Homo sapiens: one gene and its partners. The gene in region 3 interacts genetically with the main gene of each other region. Each region holds a gene or a part of one and is shown on either strand. Other genes may lie near its edges.

The links. A genetic interaction does not mean that the proteins touch.
Region 1: changes in PBRM1 (region 3) and ENTPD8 together harm fitness more than expected from each alone (negative genetic interaction), as found in Homo sapiens cells (one large-scale study listed by BioGRID).
Region 2: changes in PBRM1 (region 3) and MAPKAP1 together harm fitness more than expected from each alone (negative genetic interaction), as found in Homo sapiens cells (one large-scale study listed by BioGRID).
Region 4: changes in PBRM1 (region 3) and AHR together harm fitness more than expected from each alone (negative genetic interaction), as found in Homo sapiens cells (one large-scale study listed by BioGRID).

Annotation. Positions count from the first base shown.
Region 1 is NC_000009.12:137,433,068-137,436,110, reverse strand, and holds the end of ENTPD8 (ectonucleoside triphosphate diphosphohydrolase 8), read left to right. Parts: coding exon 1-98; intron 99-281; coding exon 282-392; intron 393-772; coding exon 773-907; intron 908-1,005; coding exon 1,006-1,197; 3' UTR 1,198-1,747; downstream 1,748-3,043. Other genes in the region: NOXA1 (NADPH oxidase activator 1), read right to left, coding at 1,751-1,908, 2,032-2,146, 2,247-2,361, 2,504-2,658, 2,848-2,906, 3,037-3,043. UniProt on the Homo sapiens protein: Canalicular ectonucleoside NTPDase responsible for the main hepatic NTPDase activity. Ectonucleoside NTPDases catalyze the hydrolysis of gamma- and beta-phosphate residues of nucleotides, playing a central role in concentration of extracellular nucleotides.
Region 2 is NC_000009.12:125,699,913-125,704,208, reverse strand, and holds part of MAPKAP1 (target of rapamycin complex 2 subunit MAPKAP1), read left to right. Parts: intron 1-4,296. UniProt on the Homo sapiens protein: Component of the mechanistic target of rapamycin complex 2 (mTORC2), which transduces signals from growth factors to pathways involved in proliferation, cytoskeletal organization, lipogenesis and anabolic output.
Region 3 is NC_000003.12:52,587,567-52,592,659, reverse strand, and holds part of PBRM1 (protein polybromo-1), read left to right. Parts: intron 1-3,404; coding exon 3,405-3,590; intron 3,591-5,093. UniProt on the Homo sapiens protein: Involved in transcriptional activation and repression of select genes by chromatin remodeling (alteration of DNA-nucleosome topology). Required for the stability of the SWI/SNF chromatin remodeling complex SWI/SNF-B (PBAF).
Region 4 is NC_000007.14:17,329,652-17,333,947, forward strand, and holds part of AHR (aryl hydrocarbon receptor), read left to right. Parts: intron 1-300; coding exon 301-424; intron 425-1,104; coding exon 1,105-1,235; intron 1,236-4,260; coding exon 4,261-4,296. UniProt on the Homo sapiens protein: Ligand-activated transcription factor that enables cells to adapt to changing conditions by sensing compounds from the environment, diet, microbiome and cellular metabolism, and which plays important roles in development, immunity and cancer.

The DNA of each region.
Region 1 (3,043 bases), on a different chromosome or scaffold from region 3:
CAGCCATCCGGGAACTTTTCAACTTCTCCAGCTGCCAGGGCCAGGAGGACTGCGCCTTTGACGGGGTCTACCAGCCCCCGCTGCGGGGCCAGTTCTATGTGAGCACCTACACTGCCCCCACCAGGGGTCCGGGCTTCCTTGTGAGGCCTCAGGTGCCTGTCTGACTCCAGCAGGCCCAGGAGGGGCCCAGGCTGGCTCTTAGGGGCTCTGGGAGCCCGGGTGGGGTGGATCTGGCCCAGCGTGGCCACAGCGAAGGCACAGCCACCTCCCCTCTCACTCAGGCCTTCTCCAACTTCTACTACACCTTCCACTTCCTGAACCTCACCTCCAGGCAGCCCCTGAGCACGGTCAACGCCACCATCTGGGAGTTTTGCCAGAGGCCCTGGAAACTGGTGGGTGGGCCCTGGGCTCCCTGGCTGCAGCGAGGGTCCCTGAGGGTACAGGGCTGCCTCGGGCAGGATGCTGGAGCCTCATTCTGGGCAGCACGGCCAGCAGGGCCGGGGGAGGCAAGGGCAGAGGACAGCTCCAGGCCGTGCCACTCCAGGTAGGAGGCTGTGGCCACGGCCGCAGCTGGGCCCAGCCTCTGGCCCGCCAAGAAGGGGCCGCAACCCGCACCACGTAACTGGTCGGTGGGGCCAGGGAGGGGCTCTCTACCACTGCCCGGCACCCTCTTGTTGTCTGCGTGCTCAGGTTGGCCAGGACAGATGGGGCGGTCCCCGCATGACTGGGGATCAGGGGCCCTCACCTCGCCTCTTGGTCTCCTGGGCCCCAGGTGGAGGCCAGCTACCCTGGGCAGGACCGCTGGCTGCGGGACTACTGTGCCTCAGGCCTGTACATCCTCACCCTCCTGCACGAGGGCTACGGGTTCAGCGAGGAGACCTGGCCCAGCCTCGAGTTCCGAAAGCAGGTGACTGCCTCCCCTGGGCGTGGGCGGGGCGTGGGCGTGGGCAGGTCGTGGTCCTGGGGTAGCTGCCCCGCAGCCCTGAGCAGCCGTGTGTCCCGCAGGCGGGCGGTGTGGACATTGGCTGGACACTGGGCTACATGCTGAACCTGACCGGGATGATCCCGGCCGATGCGCCGGCTCAGTGGCGGGCAGAGAGCTACGGCGTCTGGGTGGCCAAAGTGGTGTTCATGGTGCTGGCCCTGGTGGCGGTGGTGGGGGCTGCCTTGGTCCAGCTCTTCTGGTTGCAGGACTAGTGGGAAGGCGGAGGTGGGCCCCCACAGAGCCCACAGGCAGCTGCGTCCCGGATGCTGGAGGCTTCCTGAGCCCTGAGCGCCGTGGGGCCTTGCTCTGTGGCTCTGCCCACGGTCAGGTGACAGCCACCTCCAGGGCACCGTCAGGGTGGTGCTGGCCACAGAGGCTGCATGACCTCCCCTCCCGGCGTCCCTCCCCCAACCTCCTTCCGCAACTGGGCTTCCAGGGCCGTAGGTGCCTTTCTGCACACAGGCCGCCAGGACTCGTGGTGTCTCCAGGCTGTGTGACTGCAGGGCCACATGCTGCCTGCAAACAGGGCAAGACCACGGAGGCACAGGGGTCCTGCTCCTGATGGGGCCTCAGGAGGGGCGGAGAGGGGTGGAAGGGAGGGAGCTGCCCCACCTGGACCCCCGCTCTCCCTGCTGTTGTCTGAGCAGATGGATGGAGTCCAGGCCTGGGGGCTTCTGCTGGGCCAGCCCGGCCTCCCACACCCACTTGGAGGGTGAGACTGCAGTGGGGGTTGTTTTTATTAAAAGCATCATGGACACAGCATCATTAGGGCTGATCTCCCTGCTGGGATCGGGGCAGGCGGCCGGGGGCTCCTGACATCCGAGGGCCGGCGGGGACCACGAAGCACTTGGGGAAGATGCCGATGCGGCCGTCACAGTGGCCCTCCAGCCATGCCTGGTCCACTGCAAGGGGGACATCGGGCTCTGCAGGGCGTTACCCAGGCGTGGCCTCTGGGTGCCACGTCTGCTCACAGCACAGGCCGAGCTCTAAGCCCCCCACACCCCGGGCACCACGGTGCTGCCTGGGAAGGGCCATGCCCACCCTACCTTCACACAGGACGTCCACCGTGTCCCCCTGTCGGAAGCCCAGGTCCTCTGGCCCCTGGGCGGAGTAGCTGTGCTGGGCCACCACCTGGTAGAGGACCGGCCGACCCCCGGCTCCCTGAGGCAGGAGAGTGGGCTGCAGGTCGGGCCGGGCACTGGGAGGAGGGGCCTCCACCGCCCCTCAGGGTGCCCCTGCCCCTGCCTCGCCCTTGGCTCACCCTGCACTGCAGCTGCAGCCCCCTGGGGCAGGCAGCTGCGTCCTGCCAGGCCCTCTGCAGCGACTCCTCCTCGGGGATGGGGACCCAGTGCCCGTCCTCACCTGGGGCTAGGTAACTGCAAAGAGATTCCTCAGAGGGGGCCTCCTGGGTGGGGCCTGCAGGGAGGGCAGTGACCTCTGCCACCCCCTCTTCCAGCAGCTGCCTCAGTCGGGGCGGTGCCCAGCTCCACCGCAGCCACCGGGGGCTTTCTGGCCCACCTGAGTTGCCCAAGCTGGGCCTGGTGAGGGAGGGCTTGGCCCAGCAGTGCCCGCAGGCTGGACAGGTCGGCTCCTCTTCGTGCCCTCAGGGCCACTGTGAAGGCGCACTGCACGGTGACAGTCACCAGGGGCTCGGAGCCCCCTGCACCTGCTCCCTGGGTCCAGGCAGGAGGGGGAGGGGTGGTCGCTGAGGCCCAGGGCCTGGTCAGGGCCGTCTTCAGCCCGAGGGGTGTGGACAGAGACTGGGCAGGTGAGGGGGGCTTGCAAGCCTTGATTCTGAGGGATGGGGCTTGGCCTCAGCCTCCCTCAGGTGACTGACAGGTGAAGGGTCTAGAGCCTCTTACCCCAGCACCCGCGGGGTCCTCACAGGGGCCGGGGCCAGGCCCCCCCATTGCCGGCAGCCCTGTAGGACAGAGCAAGACTGACACAGCCACTACCACCAAAGTGGGCCCTGTGGGTGGAGGGCAGCCGGCACCCATGCACCAGCAGCTTCCTCCTTCACCCGGGGACCCCGCCGCTGAGGACGCCCATACCTGGGGA
Region 2 (4,296 bases), on a different chromosome or scaffold from region 3:
TTATCTGCTGAACACTGAGATCGGCACTCTTCATTACTACACCATGTTGCTTGTTCTTTGTGATGTGGATGCGGACCCTCTGGAAAGGCTTCAGAGAGAAACTTGCCCTTGAGCTGTAGCTTCAGTGTGCCAGTCATTGTGAGACAGGAGGGATCACGAGGAATGGAAGTGGCCTTTGCACTAAAGGAGCTCATAGCCTTATCTGTTACTTTAAATGTTTTTCTTTTTTGGTGGGGGAGCTTGTTTTGCTTATTGACTTATACCTGAAGACTTCAGAAACTTTTGCAGTTGAGTGGATTTATATGATTCAGCCTAAGATAATTTGCTGGCAATCTGTTATTCTGATGTATAGGCCTTACTGTTACGGACGCAGTTGTAGATGTCAAATTATTATATGACAAGGACTTCTGTCACGTTACTTGTTTTTTTTTTTTTTTTTGAGACAGTCTTGCTCTATCACCCAGGGTGGAGTGCAGTGGCATGATCTTGGCTGACTGCAACCTCTGCCTCCTGGGTTCAAGAGATTCTCTTGCCTCAGCCTCCCAAGTAGCTGGGACTATAGGCAGGTGCCACCACGCCTGGCCAATTTTTGTGTTTTTAGTAGAAACGGGGTTTTGCTGTGTTGGCCAGGCTGGTCTCAAACTCCTGACCTCAAGTGATCTGCCTGCCTCGGGCTCTCAAAGTGCTGGGATTACAGGCGTGAGCCACCATTCGTGGCCACATTACGTTTTTTCCCTATGGGAGGTGCCCTGACTTGTTTCTGTGAGTTCGAAGTTTTTGTGAAGTTTTTTGACTCAGAAGTCAGCATATTTCAGCTTGTGTTAAATTTAAGAGGCTTAGTGGTTAAATATGTTACTTAAGAGTCACAGAGCTAATGTGTGATAGAGCCACAAAAAACTGGCCAAAAAAGAGTAAACAAATCTTCATTAAATTATTATTATTGTTCTGTTTGAGCATCTTCCTCAGTGGTCTCCAAGTCCGATGCCTGTTATGTACTAGGATGAGTAGGCTGGGCCTTGATGAACTGGAGAGCACGGGCCCAAACTAAAGGGAGCAGTTGCTGCTCAGCTCCACTTGCTTGTTGCCATGTGAGGAAGTGGGCCCAGTGTCCTTGGATCTTTTGACACTTTTTGGAAAAGATGCTGGAAATCTGGATTTTAATTTATTCTTATTTATTTATTTAACTTTTAGAGACAGGGTATCGTCCTATCAGGCTAGAGTGCAGTTTCGTGGTAATAGCTCACTACAGCCTTGAATTCTGGGCTCAAGTGATCCTCCCACCTCTGCCTCCCCAATAGCTAGGACTACAGGCGCATGCCACTATGTGTAGCTAGTTTTTTTTTTTTTTCTTTTTTTGAGACAAAGTCTCGCTCTTGTTGCCCAGGCTGGAGTGCAGTGGCATGACCTTGGCTCACTGCAATGTCCGCCTCCCGGGTTCAAGCGATTCTCTTGCCTCAGCCTCCTGAGTAGCTGGGACTACAGGTGCCCATCACCACGCCCAGCTAATTTTTGTATTTTTAGTAGAGACAGGGTTTTGCCGTGTTGGCCAGGCTGGTCTTGAACTCTTGACCTCAAGTGATCCGCCTGCTTCAGGCTCTCAAAGTGCTGGGATTACAGGGGTGAGCCATTGCATCCGGCCATGTACTAGCTAGTTGTTGCTTTTATTTTTTTTGTGGGAAGGAGTTTCGCTCTTGTTGCCCAGGCTGGAGTGCAATGGCGCGATCTTGACTCACTGCAACCTCCACCTCCTGGGTTCAAGCAATTCTCCTGCCTCAGCCTCCTGAGTAGCTGGGATTACAGGTATGCGCCACCACGCCTGGCTAATTTTGTATTTTTAGTAGAGGCGGGGTTTCTGCATGTTGGTCAGGCTGGTCTCGAACTCCCGACCTCAGGTGATCCACCTGCCTTGGCCTCCCAAAGTGCTGGGACTACAGGCGTGAGCCACTGCGCCCGGCCTAATTTTTAAAAAAATTTTGTAGAGATGGTGTCTATCTATGTTGCCTAGGCTGGTCTTGAACTCCTGCCTTCAAATGATACTCCTGCCATGGCCTCCCAAATTGTTGGGATTACAGGTGTGAGCCACTGCATGTCGTGGATTTTAATGTATTTAGTTTAAAAATTTGCCATTAAAAATTATGTTGATCAAAACATATTTGTGGGCTGAGTGTAATTCTAGGCTGCCTGATTGTGAACTCCAACCTACCTGGCTGCTGAAATTTTGGTACCTGTTGTTCAGAGCAGGAAGTATACAATACAATGTTTTGATTATTGATTAGAAATCTCATGGTAAATTGCCAGTGTGAGGGGGCATTGTAGCTTGCGCTGATAGTTTTGGAGAGTGGCAAGGTCAATGCTTTTATTGTATAATCAAGCTAAAGTATAGATCTGGCTGGTGAGATGACCTTATAACACTTCTATTTTGTGCTCTTAGCACTTTAAATGCTACCAGATTTCTTGTCTCTTGGCCCTCTCCACAATAGTATGAAGTGGTATGGTAAATTTGTTAAATGCTCTTGTATACCTTATTTTCTTTAGTCTTCATAGTCCTATGAGATAGGTAGTATTACAAAGGGGGTAATCATCACCTCTTGAGATGAAGAAATCGGCACCCAGTGAATCACAGTTTAGTGGAAAGAGCAGTTGACTAGAGAGGGTGTTGCATCCTGAATATGCGGATACCACTAACAGCCAGTGAATCACAGTTTAGTAGCAAGTGCAGTTGACTAGAGAGTGATTTGCATCCTGAATATGCGGATACCGCTAACAGCCTTTGGAGTTTGGTCACGTCACTTACAAATCCTCGGATCTTTTTTCCTTTTTGGATAAATAATGAGGAGTAAAATTCAAGTCTTGCTGAAATTCAATTCGTAATATCCTATACTTGAGTATACTTTTACTAATATACTTTTATTACTGATGCAAAGTATACTGAATGTGTAAAACTTCAAAAAAATAACATTTTCCAGTTCCCTGCGGACTCATTTTAAGGTACTGTGTTACAAATAAGTACCATTTCAGCAGAGAAATTGGTAGAAAATTGAAGGAATGGTTTTCTTTTCGGGATGCCAAGCTTTCTGTTTCTAATTGATATGCTTAAAGTCACACAACTGATTACTGGCAGACTCCAGTGGAGATGACTCAAATCTAAAATGCTGCCCCTCCTCTCTTGCTGGCAGGTCAGGAACCACTACTCAGCTCTTCATCTGTTCTTTATTCATTACTTCCTCTGGGAAAGGCCCTTGATGGGCCAGGTGCTCCCCCAGTGCATGCAGTGCCTATTGACTATATGTACTCAAGATTGAAAGGGGGCGTAGAGACACCCAGCACAGTGAGAGAAATATGGTCAGGGAGTTCCCAGCCCAAGAGTTTAATTTATTTTTATTTTAATACCCAGCTTTCACAAGGTGAAAATTGAAGAAATACTGGTCTTGTAGATACTTGTTTTCATTCATACTCTATTGTATAAGGAAATAACAGAATATAAAAATAAAGGGAATAAATCCTGAGCAGTCATTCAAAATTTATTAACTCTAGTTGGCAGCAGTCTAGATATATTGGGGAAATGGATTTAATATAGGCAACACAAAATTTGGACTGAAAGTAGAATACAGTTTTATGTAATTGAAAGTGAGAAAAATGGGAGAAACCACTTAAAAAACAAACCCGAAACTCTAGAAAGAACAAGAAGGTATTAGAATAACTATTGGAATTAAGTTATAGTAATTGCTTGTGAAATAAGTGGAATATTATGTCACATTTATGCCTAAATATAAGCAGTGTTAGATTCTTAATATCCTATACGTGAGTATACTTTTATGAATATACTTTTATTATTGATGCAAAGTGTACTGAATGTGTAAAACTTCAAAAAAAATAACATTTTCCAGTTCCTTATGGACTCATTTTAAGGTACTGTGTTATAAATAAGTACCATTTCAGCAGAGAAATTGGTAGAAAATTGTTTGAAGGAATGGTTTTCTTTTGAAAATAAAGCGAGTATTTAATCTGAACCTTAGTTACTGACATAAAGGAGACTAACGAAGAACTGAAGTGCAGACTTGAATTTTAAGCAGTGTGACATGGGGCTTTGGGCAGACCCGCTTGGATTTGATTATTGGCTTTGTCAGTCTGTAAGCTGGACAGTCTGCAAAATGGGGACAGTAATGCCAATCTCACATAGTCCTTAGTGAGGACTAAATGAAACAATATATGTAAGTACCTTGTAAGTACTGTAGTGCTTCTGGAGAGATGCAGGTCCAGGCTGAGCATCCCTACTCAAAATATTCAAAATCTGGG
Region 3 (5,093 bases):
ATCATCCTGATACCAAAACCTGGCAGAGATAACAGAAAAAACTAGGCCAGTATCCTTGATGTTTATTAATGCAGAAATCCTTAAGAAAATAACTAGCAAACCAAATCCAGCAGTATATCAAATAGCTAATCCACCATGGTCAAGTAGGCTTTATCCCTGGGATGCAAGGTTGGTTCAGCATACGCAAATCAATAAATGTGATTCATCACATAAAAAAGAACTAAAGACAGCCAGGTGTGGTGGCTCATGCCTGTAATCCCAGCACTTTGGTAGGCCAAGGTGGGTGGATCACCTGAGGTCAGGAGTTCGAGACCAGCCTGACCAACATGGTGAAACCCTGTCTCTAGAAACAATACAAAAATTAGCCAGGTGTGGTGGCACGCACCTGTAGTCCTAGCTATTCGAGAGGCCGAGGCAGGAGAATCACTTGAACCCAGGAGGCAGACTGCAGTGAGCCAAGATCGCACCACTGCACTCCAGCCTGGGCGACAGAGCGAGAATCCATCTCAAGTCTTAAAAAAAAAAAAAAAAAAAAAACCTGGTGCAGTGGCTCACACCTGTAATCCCAGTACCTTGGGAGGCTGAGGCGGGTGGATCACAAGGTCAGGAGTTCAAGACCAGCCTGGCCAAGATGGTGAAACCCCATCTCTACTAAAAATACAAAAATTAGCCGGGCATGGTCGTGGGCACCTGTAATCCCAGCTACTTGGGAGGCTGAGGCAGGAGAATTGCTTGAACCTGGGAGGCAGAGGTTGCAGTGAGCCGAGATGGCGCCACTGCATTCCAGCCTGGGCATCAGAGCATCAGAGCAAGACTATGTCAAAAAAAAAAAAAAAAAAAAAGGCCGGGCGCAGTGGCTGACGCCTGTAATCCCAACAGCTTGGGAGGCCGGGGCGGGTGGATCACGAGGTGAGAAGTTCAAGACCAGCCTGGCCAAGATGGTGAAACCCCATCTCTACTGAAAATACAAAAATTAGCCGGGCATGGTGGTGGGCATCTGTAATCTCAGCTACTCAGGAGGCTGAAGCTGGAGAATTGCTTGAACTTGGGAGGCGGGGGTTGCAGTGAGCCGAGATCATGCCACTGCACTCCAGCCTGGGAGACAAGAGCAAGACTCCGTCTCAAAAAAAAAAAAAAAAAAAAAAAAACAAAGACAAAAACTACATTATCTCAATAGATGTAGAAAAGGCTTTTTGACATATTAAAAACTCTAGATAAACTAGGTATTAAAGAAACATACTTCTAAATAATAAGAGCCATCTATTACAAAGCCACCCAACGTCATGCTGAAATAACCAAAAGCTGGAAACATTCCCTTTGAAAACTGACACAAGACAAGAATGCTGTCTCCCACCACTCCTATTCAACATAGTACTGGAAGTCCTGGCCAGGGCAGTCAGGTAAGAGAGAGAAATAAAGGGTATTCAAATAGGAAGAGGGAAGTCAAACTACGTCTCTTTGCAGATGACTTAATTCTATATCTAATAAACCCATAGTCTCAGCCCAAAAGCTCCTTCAGCTGATAAACTTCAGCAAAGTGTCAGGATACACAATCAGTATACAAAAATCACTATCATTCTTATACACCAATAGCAGCCAAGCCAAGAGCTAGATCAGGAACGCATTGTCATTCACAATTGCCACAAAAAGAATAAAATACCTGGAAATACAGCTAACCAGGGAGGTGAAAGATCCCTACAATGAGAATTACTCACTGCCCAAAGAAATCAGAGATGACAGATGCAAATGGGAAAACATTCCATGCTCATGGATAGGAAGAATCAATGTTATTAAAATGGCCATACTGCCCAAAGCAATTTACAGATTCAGTCCTAATCGTATGAAATTACCAATGACATTCTTCACAGAACTAGAAAAACTATTTTAAAATTTAGATAGCCAGGCACGGTGGCTCACGCTTGTAATCCCAGCACTTTAGGAGGCTAAGGCGGGCAGATCACTTGAGGTCAGGAGTTCAAGACTCTGGGTGACAGAGTGAGACTGTCTAAAAAAAGAAAAAGAAAATTTAATGTTTCAGGAGGAATAAAATAAATAACATTTAAAATGCTTATTATTAGCTCTTCCATTTATGGGAAATTAACCTAAGGAAGTAATCAAAGATTTGGGCAAAGCTTTATCCTCAATAAAAACCCTGTGATATTTGCAAACGATAGCTTGTACTGGAACTTTTTTTTTTTTCTTTTGAAATGGAGTATTGCTCTGTCACCCAGGCTGGAGTGCAGTGGCCTGATCTTGGCTCACTACAACATTCACCTCCCAGGTTTAAGCGATTCTTCTGTCTCAACCTCCCAAGTAGCTGGGACTACAGGCACCTGCCATCATGCTGGCTAATTTTTTAATATTTTTAGTAGAGATGGGGTTTCACCATGTTGGCCAGGCTGGCCTTGAACTCTTCTTGACCTCAAGTGATCCGCCCGCCTCGGCCTCCCAAAGTGCTGGGATTACAGGCGTGAGCTGCCGCTACCGGCCTGTACTGGAACTATTAATAAGTTTTACTTAACAAAAATAAAAGTCATCTGGGCGCGGTGGCTCACGCCTATAATCCCAGCATTTTGGGAGGCTGAGGCAGGCGGATCTCAGGTCGAGAGATCGAGACCAGCCTGACCAAGATGGAGAAACCCCATCTCTACTAAAAATACAAAATTAGCCAGGCGTGGTGGTGCATGCCTGTAATCCCAGCTACTCGGGAGGCTGAGGCAGGAGAATTGCTTGAACCTGGGAGGCAGAGGTTGTGGTGAGCTGAGATTGTGCCATTGCACTCCAGCCTGGGCAACAAGAGCGAAACTCCGTCTCGAAAAAAATAAATAAATAAAAATAAAAGTCATTTTGAAAAGCATTTCCTCTCAGGGCTAGTGTTCTTGATATATTAAGTATATATACTAGATATAGTTTATAGTATATTGTAGAATATATGTATTCTATATTTCTTCAATTCTAAGACTCCATTAAATGTGTCATATTCGTGTAATAACTTAGTGAAATGAAACACATTAAGAAGCATTAAGGTGGGGATGAAGTATATCAGAGATTATCTCTAGAATTACTTGATTCGAAACGACATACGTACTTCTTTGTGCCTTTCGATATTATCCAAAATGTCCATATGATCATATATTAGTAAGGTGATGTTTTTATTCTCTACATCCTTTGTGTAGTTATATATTCATTTAAATTAATGATGGTTGTAATTCAAAGATAGTTTTGAGTAGAGGCTATTAGGAATGTGAAGATCATACTATTGCTGATTCCTGCCTTCGCATGTTGCAAATGGAATTAAATGTATTAAATGTATTATTAGTATGTGTTGTTTGAACCCTACATCTGACTTCAGCATCCCTTTGGTGAGTACCTTTTTCCTTTATTTATTTATTTTTTTACCTAAGAAGCTGAAAAGAGTGAAGATTCCTCTGGTGCTGCAGGCCTCTCAGGCTTACATCGCACATACAGCCAGGACTGTAGCTTTAAAAACAGCATGTACCATGTTGGAGATTACGTCTATGTGGAACCTGCAGAGGCCAACCTACAACCACATATCGTCTGTATTGAAAGACTGTGGGAGGATTCAGCTGGTAAGTTTGTTTTAAATCAAAGGACAGTTTAGTGAGATATGACTGTTTGACTTCTCCTTGCTCCTCAGGGAAGAAAATTTTAACTCAGACATCTTAAGCCTTTCCATAATAATTGTTCAATATGTCAATAAATGTAAGTAAGCACCCATCATATGAAAAACATAGGACCTATTGGGCAAGTGTCACAGTTGAGTCAAAAGAAATACAGCTTCTAGGTCGGGCGCGGTGGCTCACGCCTGTAATCCCAGCACTTTGGGAGGCTGAGGCGGGCAGATCACAAGGTCAGGAAATCGAGACCATCCTGGCTAACACAGTGAAACCCTGTCTCTACTAAAAAGATACAAAAAATGAGCTGGGCCTGGTGGCGGGCGCCTGTAGTCCCAGCTACTCGGGAGGCTGAGGCAGGAGAATGGCGTGAACCCAGGAGGCGGAGCTTGCAAGGGAGCCGAGATCACGCCACTGCACTCCAGCCTGGGTGACAGAGTGAGACTGTCTCAAAAAAAAAAAAAAAAAAAAAGAAAGAAATACAGCTTCTTAAAGTCTGGTTGAGATTCATTCATTCATTTGATACTTATTAAAAACATACTTTGAGCCAAACTTTATGTAGAGTGACATAGATTCAGAAGAACAAAAAGCTCATATTTTCCCTTGCAAAACTACTCCAGTAAGGAAGATTATGATCAAAAAAGAAATTATTATAGAATGACATGCCTTGGCTTAGCATTTGTTTTCAAAAAGGCTTTCTAGAACAGTTGCCTTTAAATTGAGACATGGAGTATGCATAGAAATTAATGAAGCCAGAAGTTGGTGGAAATGTGATCCAGGCAATCCAGTTCTTTGAGCTGCCTATCACATGAAATACTTTTGTATTCCTTCACCAGAGAGCTAAATATGTCCTTCAGTAGCATATCTGTCCCCTTACTAAAGTGCACAACTCTAGGTATGTACTAACCAGAGCAGAGTGGAGCAGGTCTCATCACCTGTCCTCCTCATTATGTACTTTATATGGCTTTTAATATGAAGAAGAGCCTGGGCAACATGGCAAGACCCCTTCTCTAGAAAAAATAAGAAAATCAGCAGGGTGTGATTGCACTTGCTGTGGTCCCAGCAACTTGAGAGGCTGAGGCAGGAGGATCACTTGAGCCCAAGAGGTTGAGGGTGTATATATATATATATGAGGGGGGAAAAGTAGCATGCATTTTTTAGGCCTCATTACACTTTATTATTTTTGAGTATTATTTCTCCTGTGGATAATTATATTAAACTGTAGCTGTAAAAATAAGCACAGTGCTAGGTTCATGTCATGGCAGAGTGGATTGATGGTGTATTTCCTAATTTTGCAAAGAATGTGTGATTTCTGAGCTGGACACAGTGACTTATACTTGTAGTCCCAGCTACTCAGGAGGCTGAGGTTGGAGGACCACTTTGGCCCAGGAATTCAAGTCCAGCCTGGGCAACGTAGTGAGACCCAGTCTCTTTAAAAAAAAAAAAAAAAAAAAGTGA
Region 4 (4,296 bases), on a different chromosome or scaffold from region 3:
GGAACATAAACAGATTTTAATATGTTGCATTTAAGGAATGGGGATGTGACTTATTTGAGCAAGAGCATTCATGTTGGGAACTGATGACAAGTAACTTTTGGCTTATCTGTTGTAGTGCCAGTCTCTTTAGCTTTTTCTACCTTAGGTTCTATCTTAGGTGACTAGGGAATTTTAGGAATCATTCAATTCGTATTCATCACCACTAGCAAGCACCCACTAATCTAAATAGGCTTTAAAATTAATTTAGCCATATTTTTTAATCAGTCCTTTTGTTGTATTCCTTGTATCTTTTTTCTTTAGTCTGATGTCATACATCAGAGTGTATATGAACTTATCCATACCGAAGACCGAGCTGAATTTCAGCGTCAGCTACACTGGGCATTAAATCCTTCTCAGTGTACAGAGTCTGGACAAGGAATTGAAGGTAAGAATTGATGGTACAAAAAATAGTGTTGGTAGTTTTTAAATATGAGTCTGTGAAAGGAGGCTGGGAACCTGTAGGGTCATAGAACTCCATGATAGGGAAGTAGTGGAAAGATGTAAAGTCTGCAATCATAGGCCACAGCTAGGTCACAAAGAGCCTGATGAGCTAAGGAATATTTTGGCAAATGAGAGCCATTTAATGAGTTTCAGGCAACAGAGTATTGCCATAGTCAGTAATGTATTTTATAAAAATAAGTAGTACCTTCATGAAAGATGGAAGGAAGGTACAAGGTTGATACCTGAGTGCATGTAAATTATTGTGTTTAAAATGCACCAAAGAAAAAAGTAAGCTAGCATATGCAAGTATAAAAATGCTTTTCTCAATGCAAAAAATGTTTTTGGAAATTTGTTAAAGTGTTAAGAAAACAAAAATGCATTAGAAAATATGAAAATTGTTGACAGTGATAGCTCAATAAAAATTTAAAAAATTATGCAAGTTCTATCTGATAAAAGTGATATTTAATAAACTTTTAGTTTCTTGTCATTAGCTCTTTTGAAAATGATTTTTTTGTATTCAGAACACAGACTCCAGTTTAGAAACTAATACAAATTTTACCTATTCAAGTGCTTAATTTTACAGCAAAATGGAAAGTAAATTTTGTTTTGCCTTTATTTCTACAGAAGCCACTGGTCTCCCCCAGACAGTAGTCTGTTATAACCCAGACCAGATTCCTCCAGAAAACTCTCCTTTAATGGAGAGGTGCTTCATATGTCGTCTAAGGTGTCTGCTGGATAATTCATCTGGTTTTCTGGTAAGGTACAAAATTTTATGATACTGGCTTTTACTATTGTTACAATAAAAGCTTGAGGCAAATTTAATTTAGCAAAATATAATTCAGCAGAGAACTATTCCCAAATCAGGCAACCCTCAGAACCAGAGAGCTTCAGAGAGCTCACTTAAAAACATGGGCTGGAGCATTTATGAACAGAAAATGCAAGTGAGGTACAGAAATGGCTTGATTGATTACAGCTTGGGATTTGCCTTATTTGAAGATGATCTGATTAGTTGGCCACCTGTGACTGACTGAGACTCAGCTATTTGGTTACAAAAGTTTAATTCTACTGTTAGGCTTTCCGTTAGCTTATATAGTAAATGAAGTTGCAATTCCTTGGTAAGGACTTAAGGAGCAGAGGCATCTTCAGCCCAAATTTAGTTTAACATTAAGTTATAGAAAAAACAAGCCAATTTTCTTTGGTTATCTTTGATTTCAGCTTTAAAAATCTGCTACCAAATAATTTGATAAAGGAAAGTAACATTTTAAAGTAATTATTTCTGATTTTGACTATCTTCTATAACTCAGAAAACTGTTCTTTAGGATATAGTAACAAAAATTGAGTGAAATAACACGAAGCCTTGTATTTTGACTATTTTAGGATTTTTAAGGTATGAGAGAATTATGTAGCCCTTTTTTAATAGGAGGATGCTTACCATCTTGGGATTGAATGCCTGCTAGACAGAGAAATTATGGCCTTTCCATATGTCTCAAATAACTGCCACATAGAAAAACGATTGTATATTCATGATTGTGGAATCATCATTTGATAGGAGATGCTGTTTTCTTGTTACAAAGTCTGAACACCTGCATAGGAGTTGACTGTAGGGAACAGCTTAGGATTCCTCAGAGTGGACTTGTCTGTTATCTCATTGTATCCTTAGCTCATGTTACCAAGTACAGGAGAAGAAAATACAAAGTATATTGTATATTCTTTTTGTGAATAACAAGGAATTTGAAACAGATAATCAAATCTTAAATTAACATTACCAAGCAATGATTTTTGTTTATGTGTTTATTTCTGAAGAGGATTTTGCTGACCCAGAATTAGAATTATGCTTTGAGACAGTTTTCCCAGTGTTATTGCTCATGAACAATTAGTATGTAGAGTCATGTCCTGCATAATGATGCTTTGGTCAATAACAGACCATGTATATGATGGTAGTCCCATGAGATCATAATGGAGCCGAAAAATCCCTATCACTTAATGATGTCATAGCATTGCTCACATGTTGATGGTGATGCTGATGGAAGCAAACCTGTGTTGCCAGTCATATAAAAAGTATAGCACATACAATTATATATGATACATAATACTTGAAAATAAAACAATAATAAATCACTATGTATTTACTATTAATCATTATTTTACTTTATTTTTAAATGTATTATACTTTTAATTATTTTATTTTAATCATTATTTTAGAATAAGGTTAACTGTAAAACAGGCTCAGGCAGGTCCTTCAGGAAATATTCCAAAAGAAGGCATTGTTATCACAGGAGATGACAGCTCCATGCATGTTATTGCCCCCGCAGACCTTCCAGTGGGACAAGATGTAGAGGTGGAAGATAGGATCATTAATGATCCTCACCCTGTACAGACCTAAGCTAATGTGTGGGTTTGTGTCTTAGTTTTTAACAAAAAAAGTTTAAAAAGTAAAAAAATTAAAAATTAAAAAATAGAAGAAAGCTTATAGAATAAGGATATAAAGAAAGAAAATGTTTTTGTATGGCTGTACACTGTGTTTAAGTGTTATTACAGAAGAGTCAAAAGTTAAAAATGCAAAAGTTTATGAAGTAAAAATGTTACAGTAAACTGTGCTGGGATTACAGGCATAAGCCACTGCACCTGGCCAAAAGGAAAATATTTTTTATAAATTCAGCGTAGCCTAAGTGTATAGTGTTTATAAACTCTATAGTAGTGTACGGTAATGTCTCAGGCCTTCACATTCACTCACCACTCACTCACTGACTAAACCAAAGCAACTTTCAGTCCTGCCTACCTTGTTTACAATAAGTGCTCTTATACAGGTATACCATTTTTTGTCTTTTATACTGTATTTTTACTGTATATTTTCTATGTTTAGATACACAAATACTTACCATCATGTTACAATTGCTTTAAGTATTCAGTACGATAGCATGCTGTACAGGTTTGTAGCCTAGGAACAAAAGGCTATACTGTATAGCTTAGATGCGTAGTAAGCTATACCATCTAGGTTTGTGAACCTACCCTCTGATGTTCACAGGATAATGAAATTGCCTAAGGACACATTTCACAGAACATGCCCCTTTTGTTAAATGACATGTGAGTGTATGTCTGAGGTGGAATATCTGTGTGCAGGAGGGCCTTTTCCTCCTTGTGCTGCTATTATTTTGATGTCAGAACCATCCCTTGGACTGGTTGATATTGTTTTAAGCAATTAAATATATCATGTTCATGTTTAAGTGCCTTTGTTTTCCCTGTCTTCTAAATTTCTTCCATATCTTTACTCAGTAGGGCTCTGCATTCTTTATATGTTTTCATGATGATTCATTTTAGTGTCTTAATAAAATTATATTTTGCCTCTATAGAAAAGATTATGAACTATGCAGTATGCTATGAGCTGTGATATAGTTCATGTATGCTTGAAAATGAATGTTTACTTTAGGACTTTATCACCATTCAGGATATATTGATTGCCTGGTGTGCAAGGAGCTGTGTGAGGTGAAAATGATAGGGTAATGGCAAGCTTGGAAAATGATATAGGTTTTCATGTTATGACCATTAGGAACAAGGAGTGGTTCACTTATCCCTTTAGAATATTTTTCATATTACTCTTTGAGATAGATTTAATGGGCGTCCCATGGAGAGAGGAGTGAAGGAAACTAACAGTTCTCAGCTTCAGGAATATTTATGGAATTATCAAGAACCCTAGAGGCAGCCATAATGGAGCCTTTTAAAAAGGCACTATTTTATATTGTTAATTTTAATGAACTTTTTTGTTGTTGTTGCTTTTTTAAGGCAATGAATTTCCAAGGGAAGTTAAAGTATCTTCAT